Regions from separate parts of the Homo sapiens genome. Here all the other regions are linked to region 1. Evidence: fine-mapped expression QTL. A gene starts in region 1. Each other region holds a variant in brackets. All regions are shown on one strand. Distances are from middle to middle.

What was found.
Region 2: its variant is fine-mapped to the expression of HOXC4 in unexposed skin (GTEx, PIP 0.99). The same link has a PIP of 0.9 or more in subcutaneous fat and tibial nerve.
Region 3: its variant is fine-mapped to the expression of HOXC4 in whole blood (TOPMed, PIP above 0.99).

The regions. Positions count from the first base shown.
Region 1 is chr12:54,049,967-54,058,140 of GRCh38, forward strand. HOXC4 (homeobox C4) reads left to right here and starts at 3,869. Exons shown (of 2, transcript NM_153633.3): 1 at 3,869-4,395; 2 at 4,884-6,064. The coding sequence starts at 3,957. The coding sequence ends at 5,239. RefSeq lists enhancers at 1,665-2,646, 2,647-3,628, 2,924-3,083, 7,685-8,174 and a cis regulatory region at 3,660-4,160.
Region 2 is chr12:54,013,652-54,021,825 of GRCh38, forward strand. It overlaps LOC124902939 (a long non-coding RNA gene), which reads right to left and starts at 4,096. Exons shown (of 2, transcript XR_007063323.1): 1 at 3,153-4,096; 2 at 2,362-2,702. It also overlaps a transcript of HOXC4 not described here, a transcript of HOXC5 not described here and a transcript of HOXC6 not described here. RefSeq lists silencers at 4,252-4,421, 4,492-4,761 and enhancers at 4,802-4,871, 4,803-8,010, 8,078-8,174. The variant G/GTAGCTGGA (reference allele first, on the strand shown) is at 3,806.
Region 3 is chr12:54,077,774-54,085,947 of GRCh38, forward strand. All of the region lies in intron 1 of FLJ12825 (a long non-coding RNA gene), which reads left to right. LOC100240735 (a long non-coding RNA gene) reads right to left here and starts at 4,050. Exons shown (of 3, transcript NR_026658.1): 1 at 3,866-4,050; 2 at 2,454-2,571; 3 at 1,066-1,667. RefSeq lists a silencer at 1,772-2,066 and an enhancer at 3,364-3,583. The variant T/C (reference allele first, on the strand shown) is at 4,339.

The sequences.
Region 1 (8,174 bases):
AACAACAACATTCACACACATAAACCCTGCATTTCAAAGAGTAGGGAAAGGAATGACCCTCATTTTCCTTCCCTTTGCCCTCCAAATCCTGAATTGGTTCACCCATTTATTTTTCTCCCTTGGAAAAATCAGAGAGGGGTACGATTTTAATGCAGCAGAGAATCTATGGAGCCGCTGAGCTCTCTCAGCCGGCAGCTTGTTACTGGGGAGGGGAGGAATATGGGTTATCCAACGGTCAGTATGGTAATCCAGGCACAATAAGGCCTCACACACAATGGACACATATTTTTCTTCAGCGATGTCAGAAGGGAAGCGCTTTGTACTGAAACGTGTTTCCGAAAGAGAAACCAAATCGAGATTTAGAAAGGAGATGGGGTGGAGGGGCAATTGCAGAGAGCATTTGGATGCTGGCAAAAGGTAGTCAGAAAAAATAAAAATAAATAAAACTGGGGCAAAGTGAGGTTGAGGACAGGGCAGAGGTGCAGCCCCTGGGCCAGCAAGGCGGGAGGCAGGAGGGTGAAACACAAAAGAAGACAGGACCAGATACAAGGATTCATCACAGATGAGAGCTGCTTTAGTACCCCCACCCCCTCCCAATTAAGCCATTGCTAAGTGCAAAAGCCCTTCCAACGGATTTTATTTCTGTGCTTGTAATAATATCCAGGTGAAAATGTTTGTGTGTATGTGTGTGGTATTTTACCCATGTGACAGGCGACTTCCTTGCTATTAAGCTATAGGAGCCCAAAGAGAGTTGCTGTTGTTGTTTTGTAAATGATGTAGATGAGTGTGGGCACATTTGGGGGAATCTTGGAGATTTCACTTTCTGGATGTGCATGTTGAATTAGCTGCACGAACCTGGAATGAAAACTCTACATATTTATAGCTGCATAAAGAGGCATTTAATATATTAATAAATATTAATAGTGTGCACGCATATATGTTAACCATAATAACCAAAGACAGACTTGACATTCAGTTGGGGGCATCTGAACCCTCTGTGTCTACTACTTATACTGGCCCAAAGTCAGTCTCCTTGACCCCCCTGCAGAAGCTCAGAAACCTGGCGGGGGTGGGATGTGACAGGCAACATATTGGGGAGGACTCCTTAACAAGTACAGGAGGGTGAAGATTGAAGAAAAGAGGGTTAGCGTCAGGGCACGGATGGTAAAAGGTGAGTGTGAGGGCTGAGAGGATGAGAGTCAGGCTCACAGCTCACCTTTCCAGGTGAGGCAGCCGCATCCAGGTACAGGCCTAGAAGGGAGACTGGGAGTGGGGCCGGGAAGGTTTCCTCCCTCTTCATCAACCCTCTCCACATGGCACCAAAGTTTGCTGAGCTTTGGACTTCCCGGTGGAGCCATCTGGGACTACAGTTCAGACTTAGGTACTAGGATTCAGCACTGGTTTCCCTTTGCCCTCTTCCAGCAATTTATAATGAACCCACCCCCACCACCAATGATTAAGACAACCCCACACAACCCAAACCACTATTAACCAAGCAGTAGCCTTCCTCCGCCCCCTCACTCACAGTCTCAACTTCCTCTCCAACCAAACCAGCCTGTCCTCACATGCAGAGAGTTCCGGACAAGAGTGGGCAAGGGTTCTCAGCCAACTCTGAGAATTTGGGAATCTCCATTAGAGGTGTTCAGCCTCTGGGGAACTCCTGTTCCTTCACCTGGCCTGGTTACAGTGGGGATGGGCACTGTCCTCTTGGAGAGAGAGTATTCAGGGACCACCAAGCACCAGCTCCTTGGGAGCTAAGCCCTGGCCCTGCTGAGCCTGGGGTGGGGCTGGGGGCCTAAGCATTGGAGGAGGGAAGGCAACGAGGGCCCAGGCGGGAATCCGCACCCTTTGGGCACGGCTGTGGGTCCAGCTTCCCTCTCATTCCAGCCCTTTGGGGAAGCCCTAATTTGGAAGTGGGGACCCTCTCCAACATCCCAAAGGTGATGAGAAAAGGATTGGAATCTCTTGCCTTCAGTCTCCCTCTCACAAGGGCTTTATTTTTTTTTTCCCTTTCCCCTCCTCATTCCCTTAATTGCAGATGTTCTAATTAAACCCTCAAATAGTTGTTATGCCGTTTTAAAAGGTACTTATTCAAGTGTCAACCAGGCTGGGCTGGGAGGAGGTAGCGTAGGGCGGCGAATTAAAGGTAGATTGACTAATCACGGCGGCGATCATAATAATAAAATCAGAGGGAAAAAAAATCACATTACGACTTTTCGTGGAAAGGAGGGAGCAGGCAGCCAGCGGCCGCCAGCCCTGCGCCGCCGCCGACACAAAGAGTGCGGGCGATTCCGCGAGACTGATTTATGACGTTTTACAGCCCTATAAAAGCTGTAGCGACGAGGCAAGCGCTCCTACCACCGCTGGCAGATTTAGTCTAATAAATAAAACATAAACAGTTAACTTTATGTGTCACTTTTATTGTTATCAAGTAAAATATAGCTGAGCCCTGGCAAGCTATGATTTTAAACTATAATTGTTATCAAGTACAACAAGGGGACCCGGCTCCCTCCCTGGGCTCTCCCCTCCGCTACCCCCCGCAACTCTGAGTTATGGGCGATCAGTTAATTGGAATCGGTGGCATGACAGGACCACCCCTAGCTGGGGGGGGGGGGTGGTGGTTAGGAAAGCAGCTTTTCCTGGCCCCCTCCCTCCTCTACGGCCCTGTCACCCCCCTCCATCAGAGTATTACTGTGAGTGGGTGGCAGAGAGAGAGCAGGGGGTGTGAATGGGCTGGAGACCCCAAAGGCTGGCCGTGCCTCCCCAACTTGGTGAGCTTAGCCTTCCGTTTTTGGAAAGCAGCCTGGAGCTGGCCTTTAGGAATTCGTGTTTACATGTAAACACACGTGTTACATGGATACAGCTCCTAGCCAGAAGCAAGCAGGCTCTACCCACACAGGCCTCCCTCTTAGCTAGGTCTGCCCTCTGTGGGGACAGAGAAAGAACTCTCAGGATCTTGGCTGGGCACCATCACAGGGCACTGACTCCTGGCAGAAAGCTCTCCTCCTTGCCCCAGCTCCTTGGAGATAATTGTCAGAAAATAGCAGGCCGGGCTGAATGGGGAGTGGAAACAGAAGCCAGCAGTAGAAGAGATCCTCTGCTCTGGGGCTGGGGCAGGGAGGGTCAGTGGGTAGCAGGGGAAGGCGAGACTTCTGAACTCTGCTTTTGCCAACCACTTCCTGTCTCTCTTCAGCGGGGGCTCAACCCCCAGACCTCCAGAAATGACGTCAGAATCATTTGCATCCCGCTGCCTCTACCTGCCTGGTCCAGCTGGGACCCTGCCTCGCCGGCCGCATGGCCAGAGGGTTGGGTGAGTGTGTATGGGGAAGAGGGGCTGGACTCTGGTATCCTTGGATGGGGGGCACTCCAGGCTCTCCAGCCTCCTCGGCTCAGCCTGGGCCCCTCCCCATCCAACATCCACTCCAGTCCTCATTCAACTTCCTCTTCCTGCGAAAGAGGGGCGCTGCCCCGTGACCTACACAGACTGAGACACGATCGCCATGAATGGAGACCTCTGGAAAAGCTCAGGAGCCGAGGCCCACGGGGCCCAGCAGAGGCCTGAGGGGAGACCCTGGGCGGGGGCTGAATCACTGCCTCCCGACAGTCCCCCAATGCCCGGGCTTTGGAGGGGAGCCGGGAGCTTCCCATCTCCTTTTGCAGGGGAGGGTTGTCAGTCTGGCGGGATGTGCACTGGGGGCACTCCAACCTCTGCTAGCTAACCCCACATCACCACCCACCCCCGCCTCCCAGCACCACCACCACCACACACACAAAAAAATTGGATACATTTTGAATAAAGCGATTCGGTTCCTTATCCGGGGACTGGGTTGCTCCGTGTGATTGGCCGGAGGAGTCACATGGTGAAAGTAACTTTACAGGGTCGCTAGCTAGTAGGAGGGCTTTATGGAGCAGAAAAACGACAAAGCGAGAAAAATTATTTTCCACTCCAGAAATTAATGATCATGAGCTCGTATTTGATGGACTCTAACTACATCGATCCGAAATTTCCTCCATGCGAAGAATATTCGCAAAATAGCTACATCCCTGAACACAGTCCGGAATATTACGGCCGGACCAGGGAATCGGGATTCCAGCATCACCACCAGGAGCTGTACCCACCACCGCCTCCGCGCCCTAGCTACCCTGAGCGCCAGTATAGCTGCACCAGTCTCCAGGGGCCCGGCAATTCGCGAGGCCACGGGCCGGCCCAGGCGGGCCACCACCACCCCGAGAAATCACAGTCGCTCTGCGAGCCGGCGCCTCTCTCAGGCGCCTCCGCCTCCCCGTCCCCAGCCCCGCCAGCCTGCAGCCAGCCAGCCCCCGACCATCCCTCCAGCGCCGCCAGCAAGCAACCCATAGTCTACCCATGGATGAAAAAAATTCACGTTAGCACGGGTAGGCAACTTTGCTTTTTGCTCCCCCCCTCCCTCCCTTCTTCCCTAGCGCTCCCCACCCTCCTCGGCCCCCTCTGGCCCCCGTCCTCCTTTCTCTCCTTCCCCCTCTCTCTCCAGGAGCGACTCTGGGTTAGCACAATTGAACTGGATTTACGAGCGAGAATGGGTAATTACATCCCCCATAAATTTTATGGCTTAGCTACTCTGGGCAGTCCGAGCCATGTGCTACGATCTGTTATGTATGTGTGAAAACTATGCTCGCTTTCTAAGGGCGCATAAATAATTCAGTGTCGTTACAATGAGGATTCCCCTCTTATTACACTACAAAGTCTTCAGCTTCCTTCAACTTCTTTATAACCCATTTAAGCTTGATGACTTTATTTCCACCACTCCCTCCTCCTGTTTCTCAGAGCTGAGGATGGGGTGAGGGTGGGGGGCGGGGAGCCTGCTGCCTCTGAACCCCACTATTTGCTTTTCCCCTCCCCCCAGTGAACCCCAATTATAACGGAGGGGAACCCAAGCGCTCGAGGACAGCCTATACCCGGCAGCAAGTCCTGGAATTAGAGAAAGAGTTTCATTACAACCGCTACCTGACCCGAAGGAGAAGGATCGAGATCGCCCACTCGCTGTGCCTCTCTGAGAGGCAGATCAAAATCTGGTTCCAAAACCGTCGCATGAAATGGAAGAAGGACCACCGACTCCCCAACACCAAAGTCAGGTCAGCACCCCCGGCCGGCGCTGCGCCCAGCACCCTTTCGGCAGCTACCCCGGGTACTTCTGAAGACCACTCCCAGAGCGCCACGCCGCCGGAGCAGCAACGGGCAGAGGACATTACCAGGTTATAAAACATAACTCACACCCCTGCCCCCACCCCATGCCCCCACCCTCCCCTCACACACAAATTGACTCTTATTTATAGAATTTAATATATATATATATATATATATATATAGGTTCTTTTCTCTCTTCCTCTCACCTTGTCCCTTGTCAGTTCCAAACAGACAAAACAGATAAACAAACAAGCCCCCTGCCCTCCTCTCCCTCCCACTGTTAAGGACCCTTTTAAGCATGTGATGTTGTCTTAGCATGGTACCTGCTGGGTGTTTTTTTTTAAAAGGCCATTTTGGGGGGTTATTTATTTTTTAAGAAAAAAAGCTGCAAAAATTATATATTGCAAGGTGTGATGGTCTGGCTTGGGTGAATTTCAGGGGAAATGAGGAAAAGAAAAAAGGAAAGAAATTTTAAAGCCAATTCTCATCCTTCTCCTCCTCCTCCTTCCCCCCCTCTTTCCTTAGGCCTTTTGCATTGAAAATGCACCAGGGGAGGTTAGTGAGGGGGAAGTCATTTTAAGGAGAACAAAGCTATGAAGTTCTTTTGTATTATTGTTGGGGGGGGGTGTGGGAGGAGAGGGGGCGAAGACAGCAGACAAAGCTAAATGCATCTGGAGAGCCTCTCAGAGCTGTTCAGTTTGAGGAGCCAAAAGAAAATCAAAATGAACTTTCAGTTCAGAGAGGCAGTCTATAGGTAGAATCTCTCCCCACCCCTATCGTGGTTATTGTGTTTTTGGACTGAATTTACTTGATTATTGTAAAACTTGCAATAAAGAATTTTAGTGTCGATGTGAAATGCCCCGTGATCAATAATAAACCAGTGGATGTGAATTAGTTTTACGTCAATGTCTGATGGTTTCTTTTTATTCCCCTCCCTCTCTGGCCTGGTAACATCCCATCTTCTCTATAGTTGCCTAAGTTTACTTTAAACAAACACACAAATCTTAGCTCTCCATTAGTCTTCCAATGTCCTTAGAAGAACAAGCAAGGGGGTTGGGGTATGGGATCTTCAGAAGAGGGGATGTGGAAGATTAAGGCTGATTTCTCCAGTCCCCTTCCTTCCCCCTGAGTCTGCAGAGAGACCAGACTCCTCTGGGGGCACTTCAGTGGAGCTGAGGGTGGGGAGTGTCTCACTTTTCTATAGTTAGGTACAGTTTCTTCTTTTTGTCTTTTCTCTCTCTTCCCTTCTCCCTCCTCTGTGCTGAGTAGGCCTGCCTACTTTGTAGACAAGGGGGCAAGTTTAGGGAGTGGGAAGGAGAATAGTTTTCTTTCATCTTTTAGGGCTCTTTTGGGATGAGGGATTAAGGAAGACATCCCCTCAACATTTGAGTTCTTAAAAGAAGGAAGGTTTTGAGCTGGTGACTCTGAAGCAGCAAAGTCACCTGTCAGGATGCCTTCTCTGTTTGTTTAGGCTTGGAAAAAAGACTGGCCAGAGGCCTGGGAGGTACCCTTGTTATGGATAGGCCTCAAAGGCTGATGCCTGGAGATAATAAAAGACTTTTACCTTTTTATTCTCTAACTTTTATTATGGACCTGCCAGGTGTTGCGAAGAGACTTAGGGAGAGTCAAGGACCACCCTCTCTTCCTATAACCTCCCAGGTCCTGGCAGCGTATGGGGATAGCCTGAACAAGTTTCTCTGGCTGTAAAGAAATAAATTAATTAAATAAATTTGTTTCCTTGGGGCTAAAAAAGAAACAAAAAATCTTGCCTGGATTACCTGAATACATTCAAGCCAAAGGCTCCCAAATAATTCTGGTCCTGAGATCCAGGCCCTAGCAAGGCCTGCTTAATTTTTTGCTTGTTTGTTAGGAGAAGGTGGGAGGAGGGCTGTTGGTGACCTTCTTCTCGGACGATTTATCCATATTTCAGGAAGAAAGGCAATTAGAAGTAGAAGACAGAGGGAGAAGAGATCTAGGGTATGCAGGGAAGCCAGGGATACCCCTTCCCCCTATCCCCAAATTCTGGAGTGAAAGGCAACAGCAGGACTAAGTTGTACAAATCACATTGGTGTGCTTTGAATTTATTTCCTTTTGAACCACTTGCTGGTTGTTACTTGGTGTGTGTGTGTGTGTGTGTGTGTATGCATGCCCTCACACGTGTGTGTGTTGGGGGGAGTCTCTTAGTCCTTTAGGTCTACTTTTCCTCCCTCAGTGGTACCCTGGAGACAACAAAACATGCTGCCTACAGTATGAGGAGGCAGGCCAACAATTATCTGGAGTTTTTTATGTAATCAAGTGAATTAGGGGCCAAATCTGACTGTAGCCCCTATCGTCTTGAGGCGATTGCCCTTGGAACAGAAAAAGGGGGTTCTAGCTGTGCTTAGGAAAAGGGAAGGAAGGTCTAAGGGCACCAGGGTGTCTTTTCAAGCCTGTAAAGGAGCTAAGATGGAAAGCAGGGAAGGGGTAAATTGAGATCCATGGTTCTTTCCTAAGTTTGCTCGCGTGGCTTTCAGGGAGTTTATCCCTCTCCTCCTGAAAGTGGAAGAGATGAGAGTGAGGAGGGGGAAAATTACTACATTTTATTTCCTAAGTTTCTCCCTGAAATTGCAGAAGGGACACTCTAGTTCAGGAAAAGCAGCATAAAAGGGTCAGAACACTTATTTTATTTCCCCTTCTTTATGTCTTCTGTTTCTTCTCCTTCCTCTTCCCTCACATACATGGTCATTCTGCATGTGTCTCCTTCTGTTCTTTCTGGTCTGAAAAGGGGAAACATCAGAAATCCATAATTCTTGACAAATGAACCCAAACTAAAATCCCTTACATTTGAGTTTGAAGATTTTGGCCTCTGGCCTTCCCTCCAGTGGGCTCCATTTTCTCCCCTTTCCCCAAAGCTCTCCTTTGCCTTGGACTTGGCAACCCAGAATGGCATGGCAGGGTTGGGATGTGGGGGGCCAGTCTGGGCCGAGGGCCCCAAGCTCCAGCAGTCTTGGTCCCTGCTGCTCTGCCTGAT
Region 2 (8,174 bases), 36 kb before region 1:
TCACAGCGGGGTAAGAGGGCGTCTTTATTGGTATCTTCATTCCCCAAAATGAAGAATTGAAGGCTCAGGGACCCAGGGGGTAGAAGGGTCTCTCACTTCTCTCTGGAGAGTCCTGGACTTAAAAATTCTGTTTATGCCAATAAGATTCTGGTCAAATAATCCCAAATTCCAGAGATACAAGTCTTCTGACTCAGTCAGGAGAGGGGAAAAGGGAGGGGAGGGATCTTCTGGTCTTAAAAACCAGACCCCCGAAGGCTGAAATATTTTTGAGGCCAGATTTTCTTTCTTTCTTTTTCTCTTCTCTTCTCTTCTCTTCTCTTCTCTTCTCTTCTCTTCTCTTCTCTTCTCTTCTTTCTCTCTCTCTCTCTCTCTCTCTCTCTCTCTCTCTCTCTCTCTCTCTCTCTGTCCTCCCCACCCCTCATCTGTCTAGCTCCTGGTCAATGATTTTCCCAGACCTAGGCCCAGGCCAACTCTTGTTTTGTGGAATTTCACCCAGGTCCCAGTCACTGGTCCCCACGCAAACCGGGCCTGAAAATCGGGCCTGAGTAGAGAATTGAGTCGGGCTTCCTTCACAGGGGGACTCCTGCAGTCCGAGAAAGGCTGTGAATTGGAAGCACAGGCTGCAGGCAGCTGGGGCAGCTTTGAGCAGGAGCTCCGGGAAATCTTCTCTAACCTGGGGTCCCTGCTGTGAGCAGCGGCACCAGCCAGGTAACCTGTTCTCAGTGGGAGACACCGGCTACCCACCAGGGAAGCCAGAAAAGAGGCCATTTCGCTCAGACCTCAGGCCTTCCCACAGGCGTGTCCTCCATACTCCGAGGGATGGCTGAGGTCCCGTTTCGTTTTTAAACGTGGAATTATGATTGCTATTAATAAAAATATCTGGCCCAGTAGCCTAGCGGAATGAACCCAGCATTAAATGGCTCCGAAGGGCCTCGCCGCCTTTTCCCCACACCAAATGTGCCATTTATCCCTTGTCCTGTTCAGCAATGTCCGTGGCCCCAAGCCCGGCGCGTCGGAGGGCGGGGTGCGTCTGGCGCCCGGCTTTACTCGAGATGCCAGGCATGGAGAGGGCTAAGCCGAGGGAGCCCCAGCCACCCCCTCATGCAGTACCCGCTCCCCCACCCCTCCTGCCCACCGCCTCTGTTTTCTCGTTTGGAAAGAAATGGAGGTAAAAACCCGTTTTATGGGGGAACGTAATTGTGAGCGGGATGCGCTCTCTTTAGAATCGCGTCCTCCCAAATGCTCCCGCCGTCCCATTACCGGAATGGGGACCATTCGGCTGCTGCAGATAGGACTTTCTCTCCCATTCTTTACTTTTTTATTAGCCAATCAAAGTGGCTTCCGAAAGCCATTTGTGATTTGTGAAAAATAGTATCTTTCAAAATGCTGAGTTGAAGCATCTCGCTCATTGCTCCTTGAATTTATTATTCTAATCTCAACCGTAGAGCTGGAATAATGCAGCTATTAAGTTGGGGGGCAAATTCGTTTCTCTGGATTAAATTTTTTTTCCTCCCCACTCCCTCATTGCATCAGCCAAGGAAGGTGCGGACCTGCAAGAGATCTGGGGGTGGGTGAGAGAGGTAGTGAGCGTCCTGAAGGGCTCCTTGAGGGACCCTTGGATAGGCGAGTGGTTTGGTCTCCCCAGTCTTATCTTCCCCAGATAAGATGCCCTAATGACTGCCTGCTGGCTGGGAAAGTTACCCCGCCCAATTAGGGAGAATTCAGGACAGGTTGTGCCACAGTCTAGAAGTAAAATTTCCGGTGAGCTGCCCGCAGCGCCGTCCCATTCTCCCCGCTGCCCATTGTGAAAAGCTGGGCCAGCGCTTCCTTGTCGTAATTTTTAACTACCTGTTATAAAATTTATGGGTGGGTTTGTGAAAAGAAACGAGGTCCCTGCATCCGGCCTAGGGAACTGCTTTTCTTACTATGGAGGAAGTCTGGGGAAGGCATGAGGTATCCCCTCTTGGTCAGGGTTGAGGCACCCAACCATTGAGATTCCCATGCCAGCTTGATGCGGGACCAAGTGGAGAGATGCCGGCCTTCAAATCTCGAGCCCGTGGGGAGAGTGACCTGCCTGCAACCCCTCCCCCGGCAAATAGTCTCTATGGGGGAATTTATTCTGGACTCACCTTCAAAATTAGGGGTCTGGAAAAACAGGCTGCTCGAAATTTTAGCACAGAAGGTGGAATTCAGGGCAGTAAAAGGTTATTTTTTCAGGCCTCGGTAGTACATCCCAGCTGCCCAGACATTGAATCAGGAAATTTTTCTGAGAAAGGCAGGTGGGTATGGGCAATCTGACACGATCCAAAAGGCTTACTGCCTTGCACCCCTCCCCGCAAAAAGGAAGTAGAGACCAAGATCTTGGGCTTTAATTTTATTTTTAATTGTAAAAAGATTTCAAATAAGCCACCATTTGAACTGGGAAGGGAAACTAGGGATGGTCTTGGGGGAAAATGTCATTCTCTCTAAGAAAGGGACCCCGGGGATGTGGGTCGTTTTGAGGGTCCTAGAAGTTGACCCCAATTCTCACCTCTCCTGCTGCACTGCAGGATTGCCCAGGGTAGGTCTAGTCCCCTAGGTTCTTCAGACCACTCCAGGTCAGGTTTGGTTGGGTGGCTGCCAGTGGTCTTCCACTACTGTTCCTGTCTAGGGTGGAGTAGGAGCTTTCAGGGGTACGGCATAGAGGGGATGTTGTTCTCTTACTAAAAAAAAAAAAAAAAAAAAAAGGTAGGGGTAGGGAGGCACCCTTTCAATCCCTGCAATTCACCAGCCATCACTGCCTCAAGGCCACAAATCTTTGCAAAGCTTTGAATTCCGCCTGATCCAACCTTAATGCCCCCATTTATTAAGGACAATATTTAAAACTCGGCAAGCCAGGAGAGGCAACCGACCCTCAGTGCTTGAAGCTTTCTTTCGCCTGGGCGTCCGCCCTCAGCTCTTTCTGCGCTCGCCTGCAGCAGCCTGGCCCGTGGGGAGTGGGCGGTGGGTGGGGGTAGGGGTGGGGTGGGGGTCCGGGGATGCTCCCTCTATGAGAGAATTGGGTAAACATGGCGACCGCGGCGCCCATTTGCACACGCTACACAAATGCATCGCATTCCCGGTTGTTTGCAGAAAATTTACAGCTGAGTAATAAAAGTTTACGATCGACTCACAAGTTGGATTGGCCACAAGAAGTCATGTGGATTCCATCCATGAACGTGAACTTTTTATTGTGGTTTGTCCGTTCCGAGCGCTCCGCAGAACAGTCCTCCCTGTAAGAGCCTAACCATTGCCAGGGAAACCTGCCCTGGGCGCTCCCTTCATTAGCAGTATTTTTTTTAAATTAATCTGATTAATAATTATTTTTCCCCCATTTAATTTTTTTTCCTCCCAGGTGGAGTTGCCGAAGCTGGGGGCAGCTGGGGAGGGTGGGGATGGGAGGGGAGAGACAGAAGTTGAGGGCATCTCTCTCTTCCTTCCCGACCCTCTGGCCCCCAAGGGGCAGGAGGAATGCAGGAGCAGGAGTTGAGCTTGGGAGCTGCAGATGCCTCCGCCCCTCCTCTCTCCCAGGCTCTTCCTCCTGCCCCCTTCTTGCAACTCTCCTTAATTTTGTTTGGCTTTTGGATGATTATAATTATTTTTATTTTTGAATTTATATAAAGTATATGTGTGTGTGTGTGGAGCTGAGACAGGCTCGGCAGCGGCACAGAATGAGGGAAGACGAGAAAGAGAGTGGGAGAGAGAGAGGCAGAGAGGGAGAGAGGGAGAGTGACAGCAGCGCTCGGTAAGTGTTTCCTTATTGGTTCAAATATGTAACTAATGGTCC[G/GTAGCTGGA]TGGCGGTTTCAAGAATAGGACAGCAGCGGCTTCTCTTGGTTAGGGAGAAGAGGGGGCTGGCGAGAGGGTGGGCGCGTAGTTAATTATGGGGAGGAAAATTGGCGGGGGGAGAGAAACGGGGTTAAACTGGAATACCGGTAACTGGTAGTGGGGCGATTGTGTTGTCCTGATGTCACTGTGTGCCAAGTTGGGGGTGGGGAGGCAAGGGAACAGCACCTGTGGGGCTCAAGCCGGCGGTCTAGGGCGCCAGCTCTCTGCTGCCCACTGTGTCAGTACCTGCTTATTATAGATCTTCGGTCTCTTGGCTAATGGAACTGGGTCGGAGCGGAACTGGAAGCTCAAGCTCCAGGCAGGAGAGAGAACTTAGAGGCTGTGCCCATTGCCCCCTAAGCAAAGTTAGCCCCCCAACCCCCAAACAAACTTTCCAGCTTCCCCTCCCTGTCTGGCAGCCCCCTCCCTCCCAGAGAGCGCGACTGCTAGAGCTCACACATGCGCAGTGTGGGCCCAGGGCCGGGCCGCCGAGCAGGAAGCCGGCGCAGCTAGGCGGCCGGCGGGGCCTGTTAATTGGCAATTAGGGGGGAGGCTGGTGGCTGGTGCGCGTCAGCCGAGAGGAGAGCGTCTGCCCACCCCCTGCTCCCGCCCCCACTCGGGCGGATGGAAGGGTGGGAGGTGCCCTGCGTTGGGTGGAGGGTGGAGGTTGTAGGGTGGGGGTGGGGGATGCTGTACTCAAAAGCCATCTTGTGCTCAGAGAAAAGAGGCCTACCGGCTTTCCCTTCCGGGGTCCGGCGCCCCTCACCCCCAGCCGCGGCCATCCCAGCCGGGATGCCCACTGGACCGGGATGCCCGCTCGCCACGCATGGCTGCTCTGGGCTAGGACCTGCCTCGCCTCGGGGGGAGGTGGAAATGGGGAAGGCCCTAGGCTGGGCGGGGACAGGCCCAGTCCTCCTGGTAGAGTCTCCTAGGTGCTGTGGAGGCAGTGAGGATTCCGGGGGCTGCTGGCTTATGGGGTAGAGGCGTCAGCCTGGGGCGGCGGGAGGGTCCTGGGCACTCGGGATCTCTCTAATAATTGGTGCTAATGGCCTGTTGTATAGTCTTAACCCGACGCATATGGTTTCATAACACAGTGGCTTAATTTCTTCCAAATGTACGTGGCCCTGAATGTGTTGCAGTTTGATATATGACCCCGCCCTGCTCCCCGGCCTGGGTCCGAGGCTCCGAGGCGGCCCCATAAGTGTGAATTTCTGTTTATAAACGGCGACGCACACGCAAACGCCTACACACCCAGGCAGACACACCCGGAGGCGTGGGGGAACATATTCCAGACGAGGTCCGAGAGAACCTGGGGGCCAGACTTACCTTAATCTAAGCCAAGACACCCCCTCTACCCCCACCCTCTCCCAGAGGCGCGACTGGGATTCTGCGCCAAGTCCCAGTGGGGGAGGGGATCGCTCCACGATTTCCTGTTTAAACCCTGACCCGTCGCCTGTGGGGGGGCGGGGATGGGGGAAGAAACCTGTTTTTATCAAATTTTTAAAAATACAGTTTGCATTCAGATCAAACCGTTTGGGCCAGAGCTGACGGTGAATTTTATCTCCCCTCCCCCCACAACCCCCTTCCCTTCCTTTTCTGCCCCCGCTAAATTCCCCTTTCGCAGCCATCATAAAGGCCTCTGAGGTATTCTCCCGCGGGAAGAAATGGCATTTTCTCTCCCCCTCCCCCACCCCCCCACCCCCAGTAGGACTTGTGTGTCGGCAGAGGCGTCTGACGAGGGGCTAATTTCGCTTTCCTTGTTTACGATCGAGAAAAGCGCTTGGCTCTCCCCAAATGGGCCCAGCCCGCCGCCTGCTCAGGCTGCCGCGCGCTCTCCCGCCGCTCAGGCACGGCCCAGTGGCTGATGCCCCGCGGATCCAGCCTGCGGCAGGCCGGAACCCGGAGTCTGTGGGACCTGAAAAGGGCAAAGGGAGTGCGGTGGGACACAAGAGGGGCCCGAGAGGCCCGAAAAAGGGAGCCTTTCTCCTGGAGTAATGTGGGAATCGCCGACCGGTGAGGCCTCTATTTCTCTCTTTCGCCTGCATTTTGTCCGCCCCCGCCCCTGTGGATGGCCGCTGATGGGGGGGAACACAAGTGTCCTTTGTCCGTCCCCGAAAGAAAACCTTTTCCAGAGAAGGCCATTCAGGCCAGTGGAGATTCACCTAGAATATTAGAAGGGCCCCCTCCCACCCGAGGGGCGGGCCTGGGCGAGGCTGAGGTATTTCTCTTAATCCTAGAACGACCTCACTGAGTGTACCCACAGCGAGATTTGGAGGTGCTAGAGTTCGAGGTTGGCCGCTTAACAGCACCATCCTGAGGTGTCTTTATATAATATTTTAATTGATTTTCTGTCCCTTCCTGGCTACAGCCCTGCAGCTCCCCCACCCCCATCCTATGCCCTTCACCCCTAGACCCATCCTTACAAGACAGAGGCAAGCAGAGAAGGCATAGCAGCAGCGACCGGCGCTCTGTTTTCATTTTCCACTCTGGCCAGGGGATAAACTGGACCCCAGTGGACTCCAACACCAACTCTCTGCTTCCCAGTTACTTTCGATTTTCTTTCCCTTCTCCTTCTTTCTCTCCCTCTCTGGCATTCAAACAGAAGCACAAGAGGACCCACCAGTGGCAACTCTAAGCCTCCTTGCAGGCCACATTCCCTGCTGACGTGGTCCTTCCTGCAGGAGAGCCCTTCTGTGATTATCTAATAATAGCCAGGGTGGCTGAGAATAGAATCTGGCTCAAGGACTCTGCACACCCGGGGCAGAGACACTGAATCTGTGGGTCAGGGCCTGGCAACATTCCTTGGAGCCTCCCCCTCTGAGCCCACTCTTTGGGCACCCTTAGGCTTGCCTGCCCCCCTTATAAGGGGCTTTGTCAGCCCTGCCATCCGCTGTATTTCATGTGCTGGTTCCTAGCTAAGGAGAATTGGGCAGAGCAAACCCTTTCTCACCCTGGTCTGACAGTTGTGATCCCGACAGAATGCGACCTTGTTTGGAGAAGGCGACCTTGTTGGGTTGGCTGTGTTCTGAAACCAGGCTTGGGAGTGTTATATATTTATTATATACAGGCTTAAATATACAGACTCAGGCTTATGCATGAATATATACAGACTCATATTTCCTTGGTGGTTAATTGTATATTACCATGCCTATATTCGCTCAAACACCATTTTATGTTCATGCAAAATTTTGTTAGTCCTCACTAGATGAGAGTGGGCTCATGGAGGCACCGGGTGCACTGAGCAGGCCCTCTGTGCATGCTCTGCTGGAAATATGTGCTCACTGGAATCGGAGTATGCGGGTTCCAGTAACCAATGGATGCCATAAAGGCTTTCTCAGACCTTATTGCTTTTGTTGCCCAAGCAGCTGGACTGGGGAAATACTAAATCCCTTCTGCTTTCTCTCCACACCTCCTGGCAAACTCTCCCAACTTAGAAATTATTTTACAAGGGAGACCAGTTGTCTTGAAATTGAGTTCTGCGGGATTCTTTTCACGGGCATGGTGGGGCTGCAAGCAGTTCGGAGTAGTCAGGGCCCTGGCGCTGGAAGCCTCACTGGAGCGATGAAGGGATCAGAGTGGTTAATAAGGTGGCCTCTGGACAGTGATCTGGGGCAGCTGCTGGCCAGGGTGCTTGGAGAAGCTTGTGGAAAAGGCAAGCCAAAAGGGGTAGGGATGCAGTGAATATCTGTTTCTCCCCCTGCTTGCCCCAGCCGGCCGCTCACCCCGCCCCAGCCCGATTTGCCTGCATCCGTGGCGGCAGATTGGGAGTTCTCTAAGGTCCCCCAAATACCCAGATCTGGTTACTGGATGAACTGCGTTTTAATCCTCGTCGCTATCTGAGCCAGGACAAGACCTGGTCAGGGAGACGGCTGGTCCGGGCAGCACGGGAGAGGACGCTGGACCCGCTGCCTGTGGCCTGGAGCACTGAGTATGGGCTACCAAGGCTGAGAATTGATGGGCCTCCTTTCCCAGCCTTTTTCCCTTCCAGAGACACAAAAAGACAGAGCAGAGGGGAAATATCAATGTCAGTGGAAAACCCCATAAAAGAAAGCAGGGACCAGAGCGGGGCTGGAGGGGTTTTCCGCTACTCTCTCTAGGTGATCGGGTTCCTCCCAAGACTCTTGTCCAGACAGGCTGCACCAAGAGGTGTGCAGCTTTCTTCCACCTTCCTCCCGCCCTTCAAGGAGGGCAGCCTTAGGCTTTCTGGGCCTTGGTCACCCCAGGCACTGGGGTGACATTACTCCAGGATTGTGCCCCTCGCCCAGCCCACGGCCTCTGCCACGGCGCCGCAGCCGCTCCTGTTTATTGTGTCTGTGAGTTGTTTACTTGTTTTGTCTG
Region 3 (8,174 bases), 28 kb after region 1:
CCCTCTGTGCCCAGAGGGAATTAGGCCACTCAGGCCTCAGAGAAGGAGGGCGGGTGGTGAGGACAACCTCCCCAAGCCCCCATCAGAGCAGGCCCAATACTTGCAAATTCACTCCTCAGTCCACTAGATTCTGGTCCCATCCTACATCCCCGCCAAGGCACAGGAGGCCCAGATAAAAACAAGCTTTATTTGGCCAAATTAACTCACTTTCCTGGATTACCTCACTTATCGGAAAGTGAAAGTACACCCCACGCTCCTCGCCCTGTCCCTGCCTAAACCTCTTTATCTCTGAAGCCCACTCTTTGAGACCTAAAAATTAGGGTTCAACAGAAACGCTCTAGGACTACAGGAGGGACACGACAGTCCCTATCCTACAGCGCACTAAAAGCCAAACTGAAGGCTGCTTCCTCGGTGGAGAGTGTCTCAGGGTGAGGTGGTGGGACTGTTCGCCGCTTCCCATTTTACAAGCTCCTTGTCCACAGCCGTCTGCGCCAGCCCCTCACAAAACCGGTTCTCGCCTTCTGGTGGGTGCTGGTGTTTACCCCTTTCCTCCCACTATCTGTTCAAACCCAGCCCACCCACCCTCCATTCACCTCCCCTCCTTAAGGCTCCCTGAGCTCTATTTACCCTTTTGTAACTCCATCCCTCCATAAGTACACAACTCTCCTAGCTGGTTTCCTAGAGGGCAGATACAGTGTTTCCAGTTGGCCCTCTGCAGATATCTGTGAACAAGTCTCTCCCATCCCCTACATATAAAGATGTCTGTTCTAGACAAACGGGCCTAAGTCCCAACGTAAAAACATCACAAGATAATTACACCTTATATACATACAGATCTCTCTATAGAGTTATATTTGAAAGTGTCTATAACTCTAGAGAGAGATTGCAGCATGCACATATAGGACTATAATTATTTATGTCTATTTTTATAACTATGTAGTTATAAATAGATATGCCTATATATAGTGATAATAATATAGAAATATCTCCATAGCCATATATGGCTCTAAGTGAATGCTCTAACTACTCTATTTCACAATCAATAAGTATATATCTCCTGATACATAATTCTAACAATATACGTTTTTATCTATATAGCTGTTCAGAGATATAAATCTGTCAGGATATCACATGTACATAAAGCCGGATGGCTGTAAGAGAGTCGTATATTTTCCCATATATAAATCTGCTCCTATAACTACTGTATATGCACAAATACAATGGAAATAATTATATTTCCCTCAAACATAAATCTGTAAATACAACCACAGCACATTTAGGTACGGTTAGACATAGAGCAATATTTCCTAGACATCAGTCTGTCAATAGAGCCACCAGTGCCTCCAAACAGAGAGTTATAGAGGGAGTTATAAATAAACTCTCCAGATGGGAACCGGTCAGTAGAACTAGATGTAAACATGACTCCAAGCTGTTCTTTCTTCTTCTTCTTCTTCTTCTTTGTAAGATATTCCTGAAGCAAGCCCAGTCATATAACAGGGTGCAGAGGTGTCTGGGTACTGGTATTTTTCCCCCCAGGAGGGTCGGATGTCGCTGGACTTTGGGAAACCGAGCAGGAGTAGATAGGGGACAGTGCCCGCTCCCAACGCAGCCCAGAAGTCCCTTCCTTCTGTCTCCTGGTGGCTGAGAGCTCGGGCAAGTGGAGAGGCCTAAGGGAGAAAAATGAAAAAGCAGAGTCTGGCTTGAGTCGTTTGGCCCTTCGGCCTAAAACCCTCTCAACAGGGAAGCCCCGACCAGGCGTCGGAGCGGAGAGAGCCCACGAGGCCCAGAGGCTGGGGGAAAGGGGCTGCAGGCCAGGCTGCGGAGGCCGAGCGGAGTCCCCAGCCGGTGCCTGATCGCCCGGCGCCCCATCGCCCGGGGCCGCTGCCTCGCCGGCGGCCTGGAACACAAAACCTGGGCCCTAGCCCTGCACCCTGCGCTCAGCGCTTCCACCGGTCTTATTTTATTGCTGTTTTGTCCGATTAGGTATCGCAGCGTCCTCCACCCGGTGTTGTTCTCAAATGCGAAGGAACCCAGGGCTTTCTGAATATATGTGTGTGTGTGTGTGTGTGTGTGTGTGTGTGTGCGCGTGCTGGCTTTAAATAAGTGACTCACTGGATAGTGTATTTCTCTTTTCAGACCAAATGGGTCACCGGCTACTGAAAAAGAATCCAGACCTCTGAAAGGGTTTGTGACAAATTTTTTAGAAGTTCTCACGCTCATCTGTTATGATGATTTTCTTTTCTTTTTTCTCTTTTAAAAAAGTTGGCTAATTTGTGTTTCTATATTCCTCTTTAATTTTATTTTTATTGGGGGTACAATTGTTTTTAAAGGAGGGATTTCGTTAGACCCGAAACTGTGGGGTGGCTTCCTCTCTAGCAAACTTACTATCTCTACCCCTGTGATTCCCATCTCCCCCAAGAAAACAAACTAATTAAATGACCAGAAAACTGTACCTGGAGAGAATGAGGTAGATGTTGCCGGATCCGGGACCGCGGTCTTTGCTTGCTTCATGAAAAATCGGCTAGTCTCCAAACTCGCGAAGGAAAATTCAAGGCGCCTCAACTCCTCCTTCTAAATTTTTTAATAAAGAGCCTAGAAAGGGAACTTTCCCTGGGCCTGCCGAAGCCCCAGCCTGGCTCTCCCAACTCCCCAGCGGCCATAAGTGTTTTTCTGCTTCCGTTCGGGCCCCCAGTCTTCCCGTCTTCCCGGGCATCTCTGAGCTCTTGCCGGATCAAGGCTGTGGTCATCGCCTCATTCATCTCTGCCCCTTGGCCTGAGCCTGCACATTTGGCCTCCTTCTTAAAACAGGGGCTCCTAGAGAGTCCCAAAAGCCATTAACCATCCCCATATGTGGGATCCCTTCCCTGATCACACAAAGCAGAAGCCTGAGAAAAAAAGCAATAAAGAGTGGCCTCCTGGCCCTCCTTCCCCTCTTCTGTCCCTTGTCTGGGAAAGGGGTTCCCAACCCCAGCCCCGCCAAGAGCATATTAAGAAGCTTTCTTCCTCCCTTCCTTTCCTATCTCCCCCTCAGATGCTGTGATCCTGACTCCTTCTTCTGTCTCCACCTCAAAATATTTCCTCTTGCATTTTATTGTTATTCTGTTATGGAGGGACTGTTAACTACTGTTTTATTATTATTATTCATTATTTATTGTTATTATGATTGTTGTTAGAGATTTGTTCACCACCGTTCAGGGGACAGCAGCCTGGCCCAGGGGGAAGCCTGCCTCTCTCTCTCTGTCTCTCTCTCTCTCTCTCTCTCTCTCACACACACACACACACACACACACACACCCTAACACAGTGCACACTCACGCATATATGCTCACAAATGCCTGCTGTGTTCAGGCCCCTGCACAGCAATCCGAAGAGGCAGGCATCCTACCCCAGCACCCAAACAACACACTGCCCATGCACACCAGCATTCAGGCAGAACACCACCCCCAGACCAACGCCAAAACCCACACGCACCGAGCTTGCAAGGAAAGGAAAATACGTAAAGAATCCCTTCTCTCCCACAACCTGGAGGGGCGAGTCAGGCCTCTGTCTCTTCCCCCCAGTCGCTTTCGCTTTCTCTTTTTTTTTTCTCCTTGTTTACAGCTTCAGAGAGCTCAAGGCCCATAAATCTTGAGGGGCCTACAGAGCGCAGAGCACATTTGTATGCATCGTTAGGACTCGCTAATACCTAAGCCCATTAAGGAGCGTGTATGCGCGTGGTTTCCGGTGTGTATTAACTTATAGTTAAATTCTGGAGGAAAGGGCATTGTGAATTAACATATACCAAATCCATCATGGGCTTTTGTCATATCAGATTAGTCAGTCATGGGTTTGGGGGAGCAACTTGCCTGGGTCGGGGTGTACCCACCCTTCAAACTTTGTGGAGCAGGCCCGGGGGTCTTGGGAAACACGAAGGCATTCCTATCCAGCCCCAGTCATTCGGATCCCCCAGGCCTAGCGGCTGCACACCTGCGAGATGGCGGAGGGACTGCAGACCCGGGTGCGGGAGACCAGCGCCGGCGAAGACAGGCGGGCGAGGGAGGCCCCTCCAGCGTCCTGCTGGGGTTGAGTTGGGGCGGCTCGTCCCGTGGCCGCTGGGTCGTCTGGTTTCCGCTTTCCGAAAGAAATGAGAGGAGAGGCAAGTGGAGTCGCTGAACTTTAATTAAACCGTAGAGAAGACAGTGGGGGGAGGGGAAAAAAAACGATCGGAGAAGGAGGAGAAGGCGGCCGAGAGATCGAGGAAAGGAAGTCCTGGCGGCTCGGGGGAACTTGGAGATCTCTCCAAGGGGCTGAAAGCTGGAAGTTGTATGAAGGTGTTCCTTTTCCACACCCCAGCTACTC[T/C]GCCCCAGTCGAAGAGGCTAATTCTGGCCCTCTTATAAAAAAAAGAAAGAAAAGGTAAAGAAAAAGAAAATCTAATTATGTGGCATGTTTCAGCCAGGTGTTCCTGGTTCCAATGACTCAGACCCTATTGGAGCCCCGAGGATCTGGATAATTGGGCCTGCATAGACAGAGATGAAGGATGCCATTTCTAAAAGGAGGAAGGGGAAAGGAAAGTCCATCTCTTGGGGTCTTGTAGAAAATGCCAAAGACCAAACGAGCTAAATTATTGTGTCCGTGTAGATCTATTTGCCTATTTACATACAGCAGGCTGTGTGGGTGGGGGGTGAGGGAAGGCAAGGAATAAACGACCAGGATGGAGCGGGCTGGCAGTAGAGAAAATGAGCCCCCCGCCCTTTGCGGGAACAGCCAAGGGGCCTCCTCAGCTCGCAGCTCAGGCGGCCGTGCGGCGGGCCGGTCCGGGGCCGGGGGCCGGGGCCGGGGCCGGGGCCGGGGCCGGGGCCGGGCTGGGGGAGGGGAGGCGGGGGCGGGAGGGGAGGCGGAGGCGGGCCCTCCCCTGGCGCTGTGAACTTTAGCTGGGCCGCCGCCTGTCAGCCCCAGAAAGCGTTAAAGGTGCAGCAGCTCGCGCCAGCCTCCGCAGCCGCCTTTGTACGCGTGATTTATGACTTCAATCTTGGTTCACCGAGAGTTCACACGGCTTTCGCTGCTGTTGAAGGTTAAAAGATGGTCTTCGCTTGACAAGTGGGACTATTGAAAATTCCTTCTTCTTTTTTTTTATTTTATTTTAGAAGCGAAGAGCAGAGGCTCAGGAGAGAAAAAAATTGGGGGGGGGGGGCGGGAGACAGGGGTTGCAGGTGGGCCAAAATGGTAGGTCAGGAAGGTTTGTCTTCCTATATTTGGGATTTTTTGTTGCTAGGATTTGTGTGCGTGTTGGGGAGAGGGTAGAGAATAAGAGGGAGCTAGGCAAGAGATGTAAAGATCTCTCATATTTAGAGGCCAAAGGAGTGGGAAAAAAAAAAAACAACTCGTGCTTCCACCGTTAATTATCTGGGTAACTTGGGTCACACCCCCTAACTGATCCTCCTCTAGAGACCGGAAATGGGCCAGGTAAGGGAGAGAGTTTGGGTAAAGGGTAAGGTTTGTGTGCTTCTCACTGGGTGTACTTGATCATCCACCTTACTTGGGTAACTACTTTTTTTTTTTTTTTTTTTTTTTTTTGGAAATGGGGTCCAGCTCTGTTTCCCAGGCTGGAGTGTTGTGGCACCATCATAGTTCACTGAAGCCTCAAACTCCTGGGCTCAAGTAGTCCTCCCACCTTAGCCTCTTAAGTATGTGAGACTGCAGGCATGTGCCACACCCCCAGGCTGGGTAGCTGCTTTTCAATGTGCTTCTGCACCCACAGATTTGGACAAGGGTATTTTTAGGCAGCAGTCTTTCAACTCTCTTCATCCTGAAGGTTTAGCCTGCCATTTACATTTGATGCACATGAAGAGGCTAATGGGAAGGAAATCTATAGAACTGGAATTGGAAGTCCTTTCGAATCCCAAATCCCCTTGGTCTAAGAGCCAGTCTCTCTTCTTTCTAGCATTTTGAAAAAGGTCGTGCCACAGCAGAGATGGTGGTTAAAGATCTCCTAAAGACCAGAATCTAAGGCCCCTTTGTGATCTAAGGCTCTGAGTACTTGGAGAGACAAAACTCACTCCTTCTTTGTAGATTCAGAGAGACAGAGAGAGAGAGAGAGAGAGAGGGAATGAGGAGATACCTTGAAGCTGAGGGTCTGCTTGGCTCTTCGAGGTTTTTTTAAGATATGTTTTTAAAAATTTTTCTGGAGTGGGAATTTGGGATCGTGTGCACTGGGAAGGGGAACAGCAGAGAGCTGGGTCTGGAGTTGGGTGTGCCTCCCTAGCCCTATTTAGGCCCGATCTCCATGATCGATGCTAGGTAAATGTCTTCTTAAGAAATAGAGCCAGCCCCTCAAATCCAGATCTGGGAACCAAAGGCATGCACGCTAGAAGGGGCACTCCCTGCTTCTCTTTCTACATAGCGTTGGAGAGGTATTTTCCCACTGTGTGAGGACTTAGATAAGAGAAGGAGAAGAGCCAGAAAGATGTCCACATCTCGCCGGGACAGCTAGCACCAGGCCCTCCTACAGGGGACCTCGTATGTAAATAGCAGAATGGGGAGCAGAGAACAGAGAGACCCCAGAAATCCAGAGTCCAGGCTCTGAGGTCACTTTGGCAGGAATGGTCCTCTGGCCTTATGAAGAACAGAGGGGCAATATGGCACTGTTTAGAAGCTCAGGGGGTGGTAGCTGTTAGGAGAAATCAGCCAAGGAAGCTAATGGATCTCTTCCAGGTTCTGGTTGGGAAGCAGAGGAATGAACTTAATGGCCTCTGGAAGTAATGTCTGTACTGAAGTCCCCTTCCTACCCTTTCTGACTGTGTTCCTCCCTGGGAAATAATTCCAGTGGGCTTGTGCTTATCTGCAAGTCTGGGGTAATTATGAATTATTAATTCATCATTAAGACTTGATTGTGACCGTTGCTCTCCAGTGGACCCATTTATCTCCTTCTTTATGAGGCAGAGGGCGGTCTCTGTTAGCCCTTGGCTTCTGTAACAGGCAAACTGAGGCCAGCCCCTCTTGAAGGCAGTCCTTGAACTCTGCCCTAGGTGGGATGGTTGCCTCATTACCAGTCAAGTCATGTTGCACCTCAGAGTATTTGTGCAATACAGCCACCTCCCACAAACTTCAGATTTCAAAGTGCTTTGTAGGCTCCTGGAGAGATAGAGTAGGGGATTGGGAGTGAGACTCCAACAGGGGAAGAAACTTGGCCAAGCTGTGTGTGGAGACAGGAATTAAGGCGAGGTGGGAGGACACCCAGGCACAGTATCTAAGCAATCTGGGATCAGGAATGGGCATTTTGCCTTCCTTACCCTAAGGAGATGCTAGTCTCCCTCAACTCTCTGGGGACCCCTGAACACACATCTGGCCCCTTTTCCTGACCTCTCTTTCCCCCACCAGCCTCTCAATCGAGAGGCACAGGTTTCAAGACACATCATCCCCTCCGATGGTTAGGGGTGGGAAAGTCAGATCTGCCAGTTGTTTCACATCTGTAAGAGGCCTGGAGAGGGAGAAAATTGCTCCTATCCCATGAGGTAATTCCCATCTAAATCCCTGCTATAAGCTCACCTCCCCCAGCACTGAAATAATTCTCTTCATCCTTTTTTCCCCCTCTTCTTCCCTCTGGAACTACAGGCAGGGAGATTGAGGGCAGGAGAGGCAGCTCCCAACAGCTGTACCTAGAGGAAGAGACAGAAGTAGGAAATGAGGGGAGAGTGGCTTAAACCTGTTATTTCCTACAAGTTTTATCTCCATTATTCAAACCCAGGTCAATACCCTGAAACCAGGGCCATGGGAAGCCCTCTCTCCTTGTTTCCCCAACTCTCTCTCTCTCACAGAAAAGGAGCCCTGCGTCCCTCCCTGAGGCCAAGGGGCTGCTCTGAAAACTGCTCTAAGAACACTACCACTTTCTACAGGACACCTGAGGGCCCAGCCCCCATGGATCTCTCAGTGCCTGTCTGGTCCAGAGGGAGCCAGTGGCTCTTGCCAGCACATCACCATTTTGTGCTCCACGAGGGGGTGGTCCATGGAGTCATCTCATCTTTCAGCCCAGACCTCACTCACTCTTTCTCCAAGCCACGCCAACATTCCTTGGTCTCTCCCAAGCCAGGAGGCAGGTAGGAAGCCCATCCAGAGGGTCCCCTGGAACTGGCTAATATAGTTTAATTTACTGTTTGGTGGTCAATAAAGAGAACTTGGGAAAAAAGGGAAGGAGCAAC